3 separate regions of the Homo sapiens genome follow, and regions 1 and 2 are each linked to region 3. The links come from fine-mapping of genetic effects on gene expression. A gene starts in region 3. Each other region holds a variant in brackets. All regions are shown on one strand. Distances are between the middles of the regions.

Region 1 (6,991 bases), 33 kb before region 3:
AACACATAAAATAAGAAAGCAACAAAAAAGTAATCTAGAGAAAAGATCGGCTGCAATCTTAAGTGGGGTTGATCTCCCAGGAGCCACAGCAGTTCCTCTGTCGCTCAGAGCTCCAAAAAAAGGATAAGTTGCAACAGTGGCAGAAAAGAGGGGGCCACCCACGTATGCTACACACCCCTTGAAGCTCACCACTCACCAATACCTTCTGCAGCCTCATGAGGGTGGGACAGTGGTTACCCCATTACCTGCAGAGCAGGCCGAGGCCTGGGAGACTCAGGAAGTGCAGGAGCTGGCCCGGAACAGGGCTCTCCCCACACCCACGTGTTCACCACCAGGTGCACCACCGTGGGCAAGGGTGGCACCAAGCTGGAAGGCCTGGTCTCCAGCCTCCAGGGCCTCAGTGCAATGGAAGGACCAGGAGGTGGCAGCGGAAAACTGCATCCCCTCTGGTGGTGGAATCCCACATGCACCACCACAGCCTCTCGGGAAAATAAAACAACCTGTCGGGGCTCATTTTTCACTGGGAAACTCGTGCAGAGCAAAGGCACCAACAACCTCGATTCCCCAAGAAGCAAGTTCCTAAAGTCCTGCCATAACCAGAAAGTTCAGAAATTGAATGATGAAGCCAAAGGGGAAGAGGGAGAAGGAAGGGACATGGGAGACAGGAGGAGGGAACACAAATCAGAGCATTGGTTGTCAAGTGACTGTTCCTCCTGAAAACCCTGGCTCCATGATCCCACCTCATCACCCCACAGACAGGCTCAAGTGTGCAATATGTTTCCGGCTCTGCCCTGTTAATTACCAAACTGTATGTGATAGCAAAACACTAGCAGCAAATTAAACTTCCCCCAAGAGGGGACATTAACAAACCACACACAGTCAAAGGAATAGTATGCAGCAGTAAAAAAGAACACAGAAGGCCTCCATGCACCCACGAGGAATTATCTCCAAGACGTTGCTGTGTGAAACAGGTAAGATGCAAAACCCTGTGTGCTGTAGATAATTATCTGTGTTAAGAACAACATCCAGGACAAGCATGTGTGCTTGTGTACACACAGAGTGAACCTGAGGGCGCTACAGGAAAACAATCATGGCAGGGCCCCTGGTCAAGGGCAAGGGCAGCTGGGGTGGCCGAGGGACTTCCTTTTCACTGTGTCCCCTCATACATTGCTTCAATGTTGTGCCATGTGCCTATAACATGTTATCAAAAACTGGAAAATATATTTTTTAATTGTTTCTTAAATAGATGCTTGATAAAAGCACGAAGCAATCGATCAATGGAGGACACAAGACAGCAGAGCTCAGGATGTATCATGAAAAGCTTCCAAGTGCTGTCCCAAAGAGGAGCTGAAATGATGCCTGCAGTGGGGACCACCAGGCTGCAGCACTCGCTATGGGTTCTAAGCCCGTGGAAACATTCCGATACCTGGAAAACAGACTGAGGTGCGTGTGCTGCAGTGTTAACTGTGGCCACGGGGCTGTGGTTTTTCCTTCATACTTCCCTGTGTTTTCCAGATTTTCTACAATGAACATATACGCTACCCTCAAAACTATAGGGAAAGTAACAATAAAAGTTACATTTTTTTTTTTTGAGACAGAGTCTGGCTCTATCGCCCAGGCTGGAGTACAGTGGCATGATCTCAGCTCACTGCAACCTCCGCCTCCTGGGTTCAAGCAATTCTCCTGCTTCGGCCTCCCGAGTAGCTGGGACTACAGGCATTTGCCATGATGCCAGCCAATTTTTGTATTTTTAGTAGAGACAAGGTTTCACCATGTTGGCCAGGCTGGTCTTGAACTCCTGACCTCAAAAGTGCTGGGATTACAGGCTGAGCCACTGCACCCAGCCTACAATTTAATAATTTTTAAGTTTCATTAAAAACCTGCAGCCGGGCATGGTGGCTCACGCCTGTAATCCCAGCACTTTGGGAGGCCGAGGTGGGCCTCCCAAATCACCTGAGGTCAGGAGTTCGAGACCAGCCTGGCCAACATGGTAAAACCTCGTCTCTATAAGAATATAAAAATTAGCTGGGCATAACAGCAGGTGCCTGTAATCCCAGCTACTTGGGAGGCTGAGGCAGGAGAATTGCTTTAACCCAGGAGGCGGGGGTTGCAGTGAGCCAAGATCGTGCCACTGCACTCCAGCCTGGGCAACAGAGCGAGATGCCGTCTCAAAAAAAACACAAAACCTGCACCTGCGAATAATTTTACAGGCTCTAAACTGTCATTGTATTGATAAATATTACACTAATATATAAATACAATATATTAATATGAATATTAATAAAATAGGAATAGCTAAGTATAAACATGCTTTTCCAAAAGCTGGATTATTAACAAAGGGATGATCCGCTTTGCACAGGGAAGCCTGTCCCCAGAAGTCCAAGGAGCACGAACCCTTCAGGAAGTGAAAATACTCACAAAATGATTCGATCCTTTCAGAGGAGGAGGCTGGCAATAAAGGAAGGCTTCAAAGAGGAGGCAGCATTTGCCATCTGGCAGAGCAACTGAAGGGTAACTACAGACCGGTGCTGAGAAGAGTACTTAGAGAGGAGTAAGGTGAGTCCTGCGCCCTCCCCAAAGGGTGTCTGGGGCTCTGGAAGCTTAAAGCCCTCTCAGGGGGCGGGGGCTGAGACGCAGGACAGAGGATAAAGGTGGGGCACGCCTCAGAGGCCCAGGATGTCACCCTGTGGCCCAGCCTTTACCTATGGGCCAGTGGGTCCCAAATGCCAGGGCAGATAACCTGAGAACCACCACTGGAGCGTGTCAAAAATCCTCATTCGAGGCCCACCCTGAGGCCTCTGATCCAGGAGGCCTAGGGCAGGGCCTGGGAAGGATTCAGGGTTCATCGCACTCCGGGTGTTGCTCAGGAGCAGCTGGGTATGGGGACAGCTGCTTGTCCACAAGAGCGACTCCATGTGCTTCTCTGTGACCAGTGGAAGCAGGATCTGATTTGCTAGGGGAGGACATAGCAGGGGTGGGGTGGGGGGCAGCCCTTGCAGGTCTTGGGAAAAGGGTAAAGGAAACCTAAGAACCAGAAATAGTTGTGACGCTCACAGTCTGGAAGGAGCAGACTGAGGCCCTGCGCCAGGCCCAGGAGACGAGAGAACACTGCAAGAAGGCAGCAGCAGTCCACTTTTCAACCGTGGTGGTGCCAGGAAGTGGTTAGAAGCCCAGGACTGAGCTTCGCAGCATTCAGAGGCTTAGATGAACACAATTCGGGGGCGTAGGCAGGAGCGGAAGAGGTGGGTGAGCCCCTGAGAGCAGAACATGGAACCAGACCCCCCTGTACCTTGTGCCTCTGTTTTCTTATCTGTAAAATGGGAGAATCCTAGAACTCATCCCACACGGGCTTTAAGGGAAACAGAGTCCAGGCCTGGCACAGTACCTGGCTCATGCCAGGGATGGGGGTCTTGTGACCTGCACTCTGCCCTGCCACCCTGCCTTCCTACCCTTCCAGAACTGCCTCCTCCAGTCCACATGACTGGGGGCGGCACGCCCACTCCAGGGGTGGGCACATGACCTGTCACCTCACTTAGCAGCAGCATGGGAGCAGGACCCAAGCCAAGCCGGTCCTGGTCCTTTACCGGACGGGTCCTGGGGGACTGTCTGCAGTACAAATGGCACTGCCTGGAAATGCTGGAGGACACCATTGCTTCTATGTGGCGAGAATCCAGATGAGCCAGAGGCCAACCAGGAGAAAGGGCCAAGAGGGCTCCAGGAGGGCAAATTCCCCGGCCAGACCCGGCCGCAGTGGGGCTCGTCCTCTCTAGACCTTCAGCTGCAGATTTCTGCTCAAGCCAGCTAAAGCTTTCTGTCGCTGGCCGCTGAGCAGCAGGGACCCTGTGAGTGACAGTGGTTACCACTTCTGAAGATGATGAAAATTACTCTGGATGACCCAGCACTGAGGGAGAGGGGATGATAAGGGAAAACAATAAAGATGATCAGGGCAGAAGTAGAAAAGAGTGATGAGGAGCAGAGACACGTCCACGGCATCCACGCCACCACCAAGCCACTGCAGCACAGTACCAGGTGTGGCGTCAGGAGGTTAACACAAGACACTCTGGGATGACAGACCCCATCCAGCAGCAGGCCTGCCACACAGCACAGCAGGGCACAAAAGGCTCAGGGACCATGACCAGCAGCAGGCATGGGATGTGCTGCTGAGCCGCTCGGGGTCTCAGCTTTCATATCCGTTAAAAGGATATGACCTTTCCCACCCAAGAGGCCCTCCCCAGGGCAGGGTGGGGACCTGAGCGCTGCAGCAAGTGAAGTACATGAAATGGTGAAGAAGCAAGGGAGGAAGGTTCTACGGAGAACAACTCGGGGAAGTGGGAAGCCAGGCACATCCTCATCCAAGCAACGTGTGGCACAGTTCAGTAACTACTGATTTCAGGCACCCCAAATAACAAGACCCTTTGGCACCTCCAGGTACCAGGCACTGGGGAAAAAGCCCCAAGTTATGGTCCCCTTTCCCTGCCTGCAGAGGGCAGGGCCCACACC[G/A]TACCCCACAGAAGCCCAGGATGTCTCCCCAGGACTTGGGGCTCCTAAACAGATGACTAAGCCCCGTCACCCATGTGTGTTGATGGCCACACTGTTCCCTTCCTCAAATGCCATCCCCACATCACCACCTGACCCCCCAGGTCAGCTCCTCTGGAGAAACCTGCCTTGGCTCCCACCCTCCTCAGGCCCCACTGCCCCAAGCTGCCCACACCCAGCACTGGGCAGAGAGAAAGGCTGCTGGACTCCATTGCACTGACCCCACCAGGCTAATGCTCGGTGGTGAACATCAATGGTGGCCATCAAAGCCGGCAATTTCCCTCCTGGACACTCAGTGCCACTGTGTTGTCCCTGCCCCCAGTCAGGCATGGCCACAGGACTTGCCTTGGGCAATGAGATGTGAACAGAGGTGACCATGTCCCCTCCTGGAAAAAGCATTCCACTGCCAGCACCGAGGCCTCCCTGACCTCAGAAACAAGGAAGCACATGAGGCTGCCACCCACCAGCAGAGCCAGCCAGACCCGCCACCTGGAAACAACGCGGGCTGAGTGGCGACGAAGCCAGGCTGGGAACCAGAAAGAAACAACTGATGAAGAGGACCTCCAGCTAGCGCTGGTTCCCAACTATGGGCAACTGTGTGTCCCCCACAAGGAGATTTAGCAACACCTGAAGAGCTTTTTGATTGTCACACCGAGGAAAGTGCTACTAGAATCCAGTGAGGAAAGGGCCCCTGTAATGCAGAGGACAGCCCCCTAAAACAAAGAATTATCCAGCACAAAAGGTCCACAGTGCTGAACTTAAGAAGTGGGATACACACTGAGCCACTGCAGGGCAGACCACAGCCCCCGAGAGTCTCTGGATCCAGAGTGCATGCTGAATGAGTTGTGAGTAAACCTATTTCCGCCAGCCTTTCGACACTACTTGTCACTGCAGCCTAACCTGGCCTATCCTGACTAACAAGCACTCTTTCAGGGACACAGCTTGTGCCCTGTGTCCACAGCCCCAAATTCTTAGCAAAACACCTGCCACATGGGCATTTGGAGGTGCAGCTCAGAAGACACGAGGGGGAGGCAGCAGCAGCCTCTCAAACCCTCCCAGGAGGGACCCCAATCTCCAAATGCCAAGGCTTGACCTAAGTCTGCCTTTGCACAAACTGATCCCCCTGCCAGGCACCCTTCCTCAGCTGGCAAACTCCTGCCCACCCACCAAGAGCAGCTCAAGTGCCTTCCTCATCAAGAGGCAGGAATAATGGCTTCCACTGAAGCCTGCTCCATGCTCAGCATCAGACCATGAGCCCCTCGAGGCCAAAGATGGCTCTTTATTTCAGCATCCCTGTGCCCCCTGCAGACCCTGGGCCTGGCAGGCTCTCTGCAAACACTCCCCGAGTGCTGCCGGGTTCCTGGGCCAGGCTCCAGCCCCGTGTCACCCCTGCCCGCCTGCCCTGCGGCATCTTGGTTTACTTGCTGATTGTTTGGTAATTTGGATTTTCCTCCTATTAACAGTGCCAGAAACTGAAATGGCCCGATATAAAGACAACATACGAACAGAATTTTAAAGCCAGTACAAACATTTGAATTGTCTGGACAGCTCTAGGGAAGAACCAGATAAACTGGAAGCTGCCATGTGTCTTTTTTATTGAGTGGGGGCATCTTTCCTTTGACTGGGGAGTCACCAACCACCTTACCTGAAGACCCTCCCCCCGACCGGGTGCCCCACCCAGGGGAGGCAGGCCGGCCCCAAAGTCCGGGCGCCCCTCAGTGCAGGCACAGCAGCCTGAGTCAGTACACTCCCTCAGACCCAGAACAGCTTCCAGGGGTGCCTGGAAGCAGCTTTTCCCAGTGAACAGGCACAAGAGAGAGACAGAGTGGGTGACCCACCTTTGGCACCTCCCGGAGAGGTCATCAGAGCTGCAGGGGCTGAAAGCAGCACAGGAACTGAGGTGCCTTTGAGACTCCCCTCCTCAGTTCAATTTTCAGGAAGGAGGAAGTGAGGCGAGGGCAGGAGATCACGCAAGGCAGTGTTCTGCCACATCCAAGGGGCCACCACTTCAGATCAGGAATCATCCTGACTTCTTGCTGATCACAAACGTTAAATCTATTCCCTTAATGGCTCTCGACATCCCCGCTTTTTAGTGTGGAAATTCTCGACTTGAAATTGTTTTTGAGTCTTTTACTATCCCCTTGCAGGTGCGGTAATTTTTCTTTCCCCTAATTAGGGATGGGACCTAAATTGTGGGAAGCAGGGGAGTTGGCTGCTGGGAGAGGGAGGTAGTGGGGGGTGCTGGCAGGCTTGGTTCTAGCACCTCCTCCCCTCCCCGCTACCCCCACTCCCCCTCCTCCGTCAGCCAGCCAGCCTCAGGGCTAATGATTCAGTTGGTTCTCTTCACAGCAGCTTCTTAATCCCAAGAATGCAAAGTCATTTAGTATCAGCCTAATGAGCAAGGTAGGCTACTGCAGGAAGGGAGGCAGAAATTCCCGTGACATTTCCCTCCCTT
Region 2 (5,420 bases), 24 kb before region 3:
CTGCCTCTCCACCCAACCACCTGCTGCCCTAATCCTCCCTCAGAACCTTGACCCCAGGAGGCCAAAAGGATGGATGCCATTGCCCCAGGGGCCCCAAGACCTGAGGAGCAGCCCCTGAGCAGGCCTGCAGTGAAGGGCCCGGAAGGCACTTCCTAAGGTCCAGCCTCTGGCATGTCAGGATGCTGTGGGGTAGACACGCCCTGGGTCAATCCAGCCCAGAAGCCGGGGGAGCCAGCACCCTGTTCCTCCCCTCTCCACACGGTTGACAGTCCTGTCCAATATCAAACCTTCCAGGCAGAAGGAACCCTTCCTATGAAGTAGATTTCAGCTCAACCATAGGAAGAGGTTGCTGGCTTCCATAGGAAGGCAGTCAAGAGGTGATGAGCACCCCGTGACAAGAAGGATTCAAGCAGATGCCAGATGCCCACAGGCAGGGAAGAGAGGCCAATCTGTGGGGAAGGCAGTAGGGCTAATGTTTTAGGAGCCCTACCCCACCTCTAAAGGGTTCCACCAATGAGACAGAAATCAGCTGGGTCACAGGACTGCAGCTCATGAGAATGGTATGTCAGCTGGGTCTCTGGAGGAGGTGAGAATGAGCCTGGGGCCTCAGAGGACCCCAGTGCCAAGAGTCAGTCTCAGAGCCAGCTCTCGGCAGGCGGGCACAGCCCCCATCTTCTTCCTGCCGGCCTCCAGGCCTGTCAGGCTCTGCAGCTGGGAGCCATGGCTACAGTCCCCAAACAGCTGGAATAATCCCTCAGAGCCCCATGCAGGGGGTCACAGCTGCCACCAAGCCAAAGCCAAGAGCCAGGACCCTGGGCATTAGAGAGAAATGTCAAAAGAAGGATGCAGAATTCCAGAAGAGCGGAAGAACTGAGGCCAGCACAGGCAGGGCTTCCCACTCCCTGAGACACACAGCTCTGCGGTGCAGGCCACCAGGCGGTCTCCCTGCTGTCCCTGCACACACACTCTGCACCTTCTGCATCTGAAACATGGCTCATCACCCCCCAGCCCCTGCCCAGACTCACCCCCTGGGCTTCCCTCACCCCCACCACTTGGGCCTCTGCAGCAGGTGCACACCTCCTCACCCAGCAAGTCTCGCCCCATCTGTTCCTAGCACACCGGGCTTCCTGCCGTGCCCCACAGGTCGGTTCTTTCACACTTCTGACCACCTGCCCATGCTGTCCGCCCCTGGAACGCCCCCATCCCTGCCTACCATGCACAACACGGAAGCCTCTTCCTCGCACCATCCTCTCAGAGGGCGGTCCAAGAGGAAGGACACAGAGGAACCCAGGGTGTTGGAAAGGGTGGTCAGATCGAGACCTGAAGGGCCAGCACATGGTATATTCTCCTGACCTGAATGCCTCCCGTGTGAAGGACAATCCACAGAGTCCACTTCGTGCCAACCCTAAATGTCCAGCCCGTATCCCTGACTGGTGTGCTAGCCACCATCCTGGAGAAACCCTACTTGTCAGGATCAGAGCTCAAGATAGAGAGGAATGAGCCCCATTTGCAGGGGGTGGGCAACGGGGGCTTTTCTTTTCTTTTTTTGGCCAGCGTTTTCTGGAACTAAATTCCTCCTGATGAGGAATAAAACTCCAGGGACAGGAGGAATGTCTGGGGACCTGAGGGATAAGACTATTCCTGTGCCAGTTTGGTTACCTGGGCCAAGAAATGTATTTTTTTTTTCTTTTTGCTTAAACTCATCTGAATTGGATTTTCTGCCACTTGCATTCACAAGAGCCCTGGCTGCTTCAATGTCCAAATCGAAACGCTACACTCCATCATTTCCATCACCAACCTGCGCCTCCAGTCTTGAAAACGGACTCATCCTGTAGCCAAGCCAGAGGCCCCCATCATCCTCCCCTGCTCTTCCTCCTCATCCCTTCCTCCGCAATCACCATGGAAAGGTTTCCCTGGGGCTTGCAGGCAGCCAAGGGCCAGTGGTCCCTCTCCCAGGGAGATGGCTCACCGTGTGCTGGAAGGAAAGGCAGGAAGAGGAAGGCAGATGGCCTCTCAGCTGAAGAGGGAAAAAGAGAATCCCCAATAACACTAGCTGGCTGATTGCATATAATTATGAAGAGAAAAAGTTCTTTAAAATTAGCTTCCCAAATACAGATATAATTTCAAGTGTCCCTTGTGGTGTGATTACAGCGTCAGCCCAACAAATGTTTTCCCGTCAGTACAGAATACTCAGGCCCCTGCAGGCAAAAAATAATGAAGCCAACAACGGCGCCAGGGCCAGACAGCTCCCACAGAAGCACTTCCAGCTGCCCAGGAAAGCACCAGGCCAGGAAGCCCAGCCCAGAACCAGTCTTGCTCCCCTCCACAGCTGGCCTCGGGCTCTTCCCAAGAAGGCACCAGGCACATCATTCTTCATTCTCTCTTTTTAATCTTCAGGGCCTTTGATATTCAGACTCAAATGCCAAGAGCAACCAGCTCATGTCAACAAGGATGGCTTCACTTGCTGTGTGCCTCCTACGCCGAGTGCTGGGCTCTACACCTCGGTTTTCCGGCCTGGAAAATAGCACGGTGGCTGGGCATGTAACTCAGGACACTGCCAGAGGGTGGAATGAATGAGGCTGGCACATAGTGGCATCCAGTCAGTGTCACCAGCTCCTCCCCGCCTCCCATTTAACCTCAGTCTTCAGGTGTGGCACCTGAAGCTCAGACAGGCTCCAGGAGCCATGCAGCTAGTCATAGAAGAGCAAGGAGGCAAACCTAGCTCTGCCAGGTCCAGACTCCATGCTCTTGTCACACTGGGTCCTTGCTGGGCGTGAGGGATGACGGGAGGCGCCACTCCTGGGCAGCACTGGCAGGCCGGGTGCACTCGGACCTCAGCTGCTGCTCGGCCCTCTTCAGGACCCTGGGTTTGAGCCTTGATTTTAAAGCACCACAGGCTCTGGCACGGTGTCCAACCCCATGACTCCCCTGTCCCCCAGGCTCTCCACCTCATTCCCCACTTTTTACACAGAAGAGAGCCCAAGAACCCTTTTATAAGCAAGGCCCAGAACTGAGAGG[G/T]ACTTATCTGAGGTCACAGAGAAGTCAAGGGGAGATTAACACACTGTCACCAGGCACCCACGCTAAGCCCAGCATGGGGAGGGTGGGCACACTGGCATTCGCAGCCTCCACCAGCACCCATGGAAAGGCTACCACAGCCCCACGCCAAAGATGCAAAATCGAGGCTCAGGGTCCCCTACAAGGACCAGAGTGCCAGGATTTTCCATCCAGGCCTCCTGACCCCCAGACCTGAGGTCCTTACGGCACCACGGAAGCCTGGAGCAGGAAGCCAGGCGCTCTGACTCCCAGGTCACATCAAGCACATGTCAGCACATGGCTACACGGGCCTTGACATGGGTGAGGGAGGACAGCATGCCAGCCCCCAAAGCAGGCCTGACCCACTGCCTGGAAACAGAGCTCGCCAGGTGGCAGTGCAGCCAGGCTGGGACCAGAAGGGAATGATGAAGAACCCTCAGCCAGCACTGGCCCTCAACGGAGCAATTTTACCCCCCACCCAGAGGACATCTGGAAGTACCTGCAGACATTCTTGGAAGACGAGAGTAGTACTGGCATCCAGTAGGTGGAGGCCAGGGATGCCGTTGGGCACAGCTGTGGGGAACCCAGCCAAAGCTGGGCCTAATGTGGTCCTGGCTGATGTCCACTGGGTCAGCCAAGCTTCCACCCCACGACAGCCAGGGCACCCTCTGCCCAGCCCCACTGCATTCGACTCAGCCTCCAGGCACCAGGAGACTCCAGCACGGCAGGGCCCAGGCCAGGGGGCTGGGCTGAAGAGCGCACTCCCCTGCCTCAGCCGAACCCACCAGCCACAGACTCACCCACCCTCCAGCCACGGCGCGTGCCTCCAGGGTGCCCCAGACCATAATAGTCTTTCCCTAGAGGAACCTCTGTCCCAGATCCGACTGCTGCTTCACTTGGTCTTCACAATGACGCCCCCAGCTCTCCATACACTCATTACCACATGACCCCTCATGACCAGGATGGCTACTCAACAAGCAGGATGCCGTTCTGTGACCAAGTCCAGGCCTGCATGGGCTCAACACCCATCTGCTGACAGCACAACGGCAAATACCCAACCTGTGGGGCAGACACGACCCACACCTACATGGACACGGCAGAAAGGACAAAGGACAGGGTCCACAGGGTTCTAGGGCCTCCAAGGGCAGAGATGGGGTGTGCAGGCTGCCCTGTGGAGCCCAGCTCTCTGCCCTGCCCCAGCGGCCAGGCCGTTTCGGCCCTTTGTGTTATAACTGCACTAGTCCTCAAGCCGCCCCTGGCGTGGGGTGATGTAGCCCTCCTCCCAGTCAGAAGTCTGAGTGCTCCGACATCATCTCCTCTTCCCCCGCTCCCCAACCTCCCCTTCCTCATGAAGTCAGGCCTTGACCTCAGTCCTTTCTTCCCCCCTCAGCCCTGCGCTGAGGTCAACAGGTTCCCTAAACCAGTGTTTGCAAACATGAATGTGCCGTGTGTACTGGCACCTCTTGGGGGTCTTGTTAAAACACAGATTCTGAGTCCGTGGATACAGAGGGCGTGGCGATGCTGAGGAACCAGGAGTGCTGAGGCCACCGGCCCCATACAGACAACATCCTGAGTAGTCGAGGAATAGCCGAGGTTGCTAATGAGTCCTCAGACCTGGATGGACTCTGAAGAGTTGATATCCACCACCACTGCACGATCTAGACCACCACTGCCTGGACAATCGCAGCAGCCTCCCCCTCCAATCCCACAAGCCCCTGGCTTCCACCCAGCAGCCAACCTCACACAACTGCTATGGCTCCCCCAGCCTTCAGGGCAAAGCCCAAGCGTGTACAATGATGGCTTATAGGATCCTGTGCAACCCGGCCTCAAAGGGATCCTCACCCCGATTGCCAAGCTCCAGGTGGACTAAACTTCTCTCAGCTCCTGGGGCGCTCCAGCCAGGCCCCCACCGCCTCGGCTCCACCGCTCCCGGGAGAAGGGAGGGTCTGGGGGCATCCCAGCTCTTACACCTGGGTGGTCTAGCAGAGGTTAGTTAACCTCTGTGAGGAGCCTCAGTTTCCTCCTCCGTTCTACCCGAGGATATGCGGGGCCTCCTCCTCCTCTCTCTTCCCTGCCTAGAGCAGTTCCTTGGAGCAGGGGATTGGAGGACAGACACTGGCAGGTGGCTGCCCTGTGGGTGACTTAAGAATAAGACAGAAGGAAGCAAGAAGCAGAGCTGAATCACCGTCGGTATGGGCTTTTCTGAAAACTCACCTATGCCCATGGCTCAGAGGAGGCTGAGAGGGAACGTCCTCCACAGGCCAGCCTAGGATGTCTCCCCCAGACCAGCAAGCAGTGCCAGCTGCACACCACCCATACAGCTAAGTCACCAAGGAGCTGTCAGCTGGACGTGGCCCCTGGGAGCCGGGTGAAGCCATCATTTTATC
Region 3 (5,000 bases):
TTCAAGTACCCTTTTGTAATGTTCCAAGGGTCCTAAGACTCATTTTCAAAGCTCTGGCTTCGAGCTCCTCCTGATTTCTTCATGAATTGCTGGGGCCACTCTGCATGCCCTATTGATCATGAAGAGCCTGTCTTCTAGGGAAACCGGCCTGGGAGAAGGCAGCCAACCCCATCCCCAGACCAAGGGATAAAGAACCAGGCACTATCCTGTACAAGCTGTGCCCCTCTGGCTGCAGGAAGAGCGCCTGCGGGGCTTGCACGGGGCAAAGGAGCAGCAGGCCCTTGGGAAAGGCATGAGGCACACAGAGGTGCTGCCAGGCTCACCTGCGCATGCCAGCTCAGACCAGCCACGGGCCCCCAGGAGCACCAGGGGTTACGGAAACCCAACTGTTCAATTCTCCAAGATGTGTGGGGCCCCCACAGGGACAAAAATGCAAGTAGAGCCCATTTTCAAAAATCAGTCTAACAAGCTGCATCACAAAAGGTTTCCACCTGGAGTTTGCAAAAGGCTTTCAGAGCTAGATTCTCTTAGGCTTGCATTGAGAAAAGGGCTTAACTGCTTCTCAGAGGCAAAGCTACAGTTGTGGAGCAAGGGAAGGCCTACCTGACCCAAGACTCAGTAGTTCTGTAATTTATTAAGAACGTGATCTGTTAAACACCGGAGACTCCGCCAAGGAGCACCAGCATGGTGGGAGCAGGGGCACACAGCCCAGATGGCAGAAGGCCACTCCACACCACGGGCATTTACCCAGCACTTTCTACGCACCAGCCACTCCCTAGCTGCGGGACCCCAAGCTAGGTACCCCGCTCCTCTGCCGATCGGTCCCCGTTCTCAGACAGGTGGCCCAGAATCACCACCCTGGCCAATTTGCAGGGCTGCTGCGAGGCTCTAATGAGACAGCAAATCACCACATACATGCCAAGAATTGCTACTCGCTTCAACTGGGCTTAACCTCATGATATGCAATGACAGCCTCAAGAGCCGAGCACACGCGGGGCACATAGTAGGTGGTCCACAAACGTGGGTGCCCTTTCTTCATGAAAGGGAAGGGGACGAAGGAAGAAAAACACTCCGGTCCAAAAGTACCCTCAAGCCCTTACCCCACAGCGTGGATGCCCCGATTTCCCAGGTCCCTCCGCAACCCTCAGTAGAACTCCCACCGCGCCCTGGGCTGCTGGGGGCCTCCCCAGCCGGGTCACAGTGCACCTGAACGCCCCGGTCCGTGCCACCTCGCCCGCACCGGCCACCGCTTCCCTGGAACGCGGCCGGCGGCCGCCACCGCCACCTGGCTGCTCGGACTCAGTCTCCCCGCGCGCCGCTTCTTCCCGTTTGGCTCCGATCTCCCAAAACAACTAATGAGGCTGCACCGGGCTCGGGCCGGGGGTCACCGGGCTCGGGCCGGGGGTCCCCGGGCGCCGGCGCCGCGTCCCTCCTTACCTGCACAGCTCGGCGAAGGCCTGGAAATTCAGCTTCTTGATTTTCTTCTCGCTCAGCCAGTAGCCAACTCTCTTCCCTTTCAGAAAGGTCTGCATCTTCCTCCTCGGGCGGGGAGCCTGGGTCCGGAGGAAATCGCCCACAGGCCGAGTCTGGCGGCCGGCGCGCGCCGCGAGCGAGTGGGCACCTCCTCCCGGCGGCGGGGACGCGGAACGGGGATCGGAGCTGGGGCGCGCAGTCCTGCCGCGCGGAGCGGAGCGGGGCGGGGCGCGGCGGGCGGCCGGGAGGAGGGAGCGGCGCTCAGCGCGGAAGGCCACTGGCTGGGCCAAGCTGCCACCGCCCACGCCCCCGCCGCCTGCGGGCTCGCCCGCCCGCCCACCGGCTCGCGAGCGCCGCGCCGCCCGGCCTGCCGGCTGAGGCTGGGGCACGGCTGAGCCTGAGTCTGAGTCGGAGCTGGGGCCAGGGCCCGCAGGAGGGGAAGCCGGGCCTCCGCAGACACCGCCCCCGCCCTGCCCGCCCTCCCGCCGCGCGGGCCCGAGCCACACGCCCTCAGGCGGCGGCAGAAGCGCGGCCTCCGAGCCCTTCCTCCCTCCTCCTCCCGCCCGGGTCCTCGCCCTCTGATGTTCCCAGCCGGGCCGTAACCCCTGGGCGCGCTTGGACCCCGGCGGGGCGCACGCGGCCACTCGGCCCGGCCAGAGATCCTCACCCGCCGCCGCCGCCGCCACTTCCTCCTCGGCCTGGTCCTCGCGCGCTGCCCGCCGAGAAGGGCGGCGGCGAGCGCCCGCGCACTCGCCGCCCCTGCCCGCCGCCGCCCCGCGCTGGCCCGGCCGCCCCGCTTGAGCCCGCGGCGGCGAGGAAGCGGCGGGGCGGCCGCCAGGGGGCAGCGCCGCCCGCCGCCTCTTAAAGGCGCCGCGCCGGCCCTCGCGGCTACCCGGCGCCTGTTTGTGTCCCCGGGTGTGGGGTGCGGGGCGCGGGGCTTCCTGGGGGCGGCCGTGGCCCGGCGGTCTTACTTCGGGAAGGGAGCCGCGGTGTGGGCGTGTGTTCCGCCTGGCCTTTGGGGGCGACCGAGCCGCTGAGTTTCGGAAACGTCTCTGTACCCCCAGCAGGGTTCAGCACCCCCAAGGCAATCCATTGCAACTGCGCCCGGAAGGAGACCTTCCAGGAATTCGCCCCTTCCCTCGAGGAAGCGGACCCTGGCCCAGGATGGGGCCCCCCGGGGGGGTGGGTGAACACCCAGGGGCCCTCCTAGGCGTAGGACGTGACCACCAGTTCTCACTCTAGGTCCCCTTCACTGAGGGGGGAAGGGGCGGGGACTGGAGGCGACAGCGACAACAGCGGCCGTCCCCGGAGACCCCTTCCTCAGGGGTGCGGGTCAGCGTCGGCGCCGGGGAGTCACTAAACCCCGCCTACCCTGCCCTGCCCTATGGGGCAGCCAGGGAGCTTTCCTGCCTCAATGGTCTCTGGGTTTGGGAAGGAGAAATGGACTTCTCTCCCCAGGCCCAGGCAGGAAAAATGGATTCCCGTGGAGGGAAGGCTCAGAAAAGTTTGAGAGGAGACACTGAAGCTGGCCTTGGAAATCAAGGAGATTTTGATGGAGCAGGGAAGGGGGATGAGCTTGAATTGAGGCTGGGAGACAAGAAAAAGCCAAGTTGCCAGCGGGTGACCAAGACTTCCCTTGATCACACTTGAGTCAGGCTCCTCCGAGACCTCTTTCTGACCAGGCCCCGACCTTGGGCTCTGTCCTTGGCCTTCTTAGTCCAGTTTTAGCCAGAATCCTGCTGTCAAGAATATCTCCACGCTTGGTATGTGATCACCCTGGCCGGCCTACATTAAGAAACTCCGTCTCAAAAAAAAAAGAAAGACAAGGATCTCTCTATGCTGCCCAGGCTGGAGTGCAATGGTGCAGTCATAGCTCACTGCAGCCTCGAACACCCCTGCTAAACTGATCCTCCCACCTCAGCCTCCCGAGCAGCTGGGACTACACTGTGTTGCCCAGGCAGGTCTCGAACTCCTGGCCTCAAGCTGTCCTCCCACCTGGGCCTCCCAAAGTGCTGGGATTGTAGACCTGAGCCACCCCGCCTGGCTTCCCTGCCATCTTTAACGAGAATCTGATTAGTTTTTTTCTTTAACAAGGTAGAGAAAACGGATGGATGGAGAGTGGAAAAGACGATGGGTGGGAAACAGGACTCCTCCAGGGGGCCAGCTAGGGACGGGCACTGCATGCCTTAGGCAAGGGTACTGCGAGTTTCATAGGCCATGGGAGCCTAGAAGGTAAGTGGTGACAGGTTCCAGGGTCAGCTCTGTGGCTTAGAATGCCTGGCTCCTGGGGGGGACATGGAAAGCTGGATAAAGGGAAGATCATAGCAAGGACCCCTAGGGCCGAGGCACAAGATGGATAAAAGAAGGCTAAGGGAGGCTGCGCATGGTGGCTCATGCCTGTAATCCCAGCACTTTGGGAGGCCGAGGTGGGCACATCATGAGGTCAGGAGATTGAGATCATCCTGGCTAACACGGTGAAACCCTGTCTCTACTAAAAATACAAAAAATTAGCCGGGCGTGGTGGCGGGCGCCTGTAGTCCCAGCTACTTGGGAGGCTAAGGCAGGAGAATGGCGTGAACCTGGGAGGCAGAGCTGGCAGTGAGCTGAGATCGTGCCACTGCACTCTAGCCTGGGCAACAGAGTGAGACTCCGTCTCAAAAAAAAAAAAAAAAAAAGAAGGCGGCTAAGGGAGTAAAAACGAAGGGGATGGGGGCAGCAACTATAAACTTGATACTTGAAGTCAGCAGTAGGGATTACAGGCATCGACTTTAAATGTCCTGCTGTTCTTAGGAACTGAAAGACCAGTTGAGGCTGGGTGGTTCAGGAGGGTTCCTGGAATTCCCTCACTCCTTTGGCAAACACACGAGAGCCCAGTGTGTGGCAGAGGAAAATGGACACAAGCCATTGATTAGAAACACGGGATGAGGCTGGGCGCTGGGAGGCCGAAGCAGGCGGATCACCTGAGATCAGGAGTTCGAGGCCAGCCTGACCAACATGGAGAAACCCCATCTCTACTAAAAATACAAAATTAGGTGGGCATGGTGGCGCATGCCTGTAATCCCAGCTACTTGGGAGGCTGAGGCAGGAGAATCGCTTGAACCAGAGAGGCGGAGGTTGCGGTCAGCCGAGGTCGCGCCATTGCACTCCAGCCTGGGCGGCAAGGGCAAAACTCCATCTCAAAAACAAAAAAAAGAAAGAAAAAAGGAAACGTGGGGTGAGAGCTGAGAGGGAAATGGGAAGGAAGATGGCAATCTGTCCCATTTTGCTGCATGACTGGGGAGACTGTGGCATAGGATCTTGAAGGATGAGTAGGAAGGAGTTCAGTGGGGGAAGGAGGCAACATTCCAGGCAAAGGCGAAAACAGGTGCGAAGTTTCAGAGGGTGAAAAGGGAAGAACACCGTAAATAAGGGCACGGTAAGATGGAGATGGGCAGGAAGATGAGGCCTGAGAAATGGACCAGGGGAACTTGGGAGGGATGCTGAAGACAGTGTGTGTGTGGTCACTTCTGAACAGGAGCTGGATGAAG

Alleles and levels. Positions count from the first base shown, and alleles are read on the strand shown. Sizes are in standard deviations (SD) of each study's normalised expression. Not every link is listed here.
For the expression in thyroid of the gene that starts at base 2,294 in region 3, allele G in region 2 goes with a lower level than allele T (large effect, 0.76 SD a copy in GTEx).

The links.
Region 1: its variant is fine-mapped to the expression of ITPK1 in whole blood (TOPMed, PIP above 0.99).
Region 2: its variant is fine-mapped to the expression of ITPK1 in thyroid (GTEx, PIP 0.93).

The regions. Positions count from the first base shown.
Region 1 is chr14:93,079,164-93,086,154 of GRCh38, forward strand. The region is part of intron 2 of ITPK1 (inositol-tetrakisphosphate 1-kinase); the gene reads right to left. Among named protein-coding and RNA genes, the nearest start is that of ITPK1-AS1, 15 kb to the left of the region's middle. RefSeq lists an enhancer at 5,480-6,103. The variant G/A (reference allele first, on the strand shown) is at 4,501.
Region 2 is chr14:93,089,090-93,094,509 of GRCh38, forward strand. All of the region lies in intron 2 of ITPK1 (inositol-tetrakisphosphate 1-kinase), which reads right to left. Among named protein-coding and RNA genes, the nearest start is that of ITPK1, 24 kb to the right of the region's middle. RefSeq lists an enhancer at 3,083-3,590. The variant G/T (reference allele first, on the strand shown) is at 3,019.
Region 3 is chr14:93,113,632-93,118,631 of GRCh38, forward strand. ITPK1 (inositol-tetrakisphosphate 1-kinase) reads right to left here and starts at 2,294. Exons shown (of 11, transcript NM_014216.6): 1 at 2,141-2,294; 2 at 1,438-1,674. The coding sequence starts at 1,532.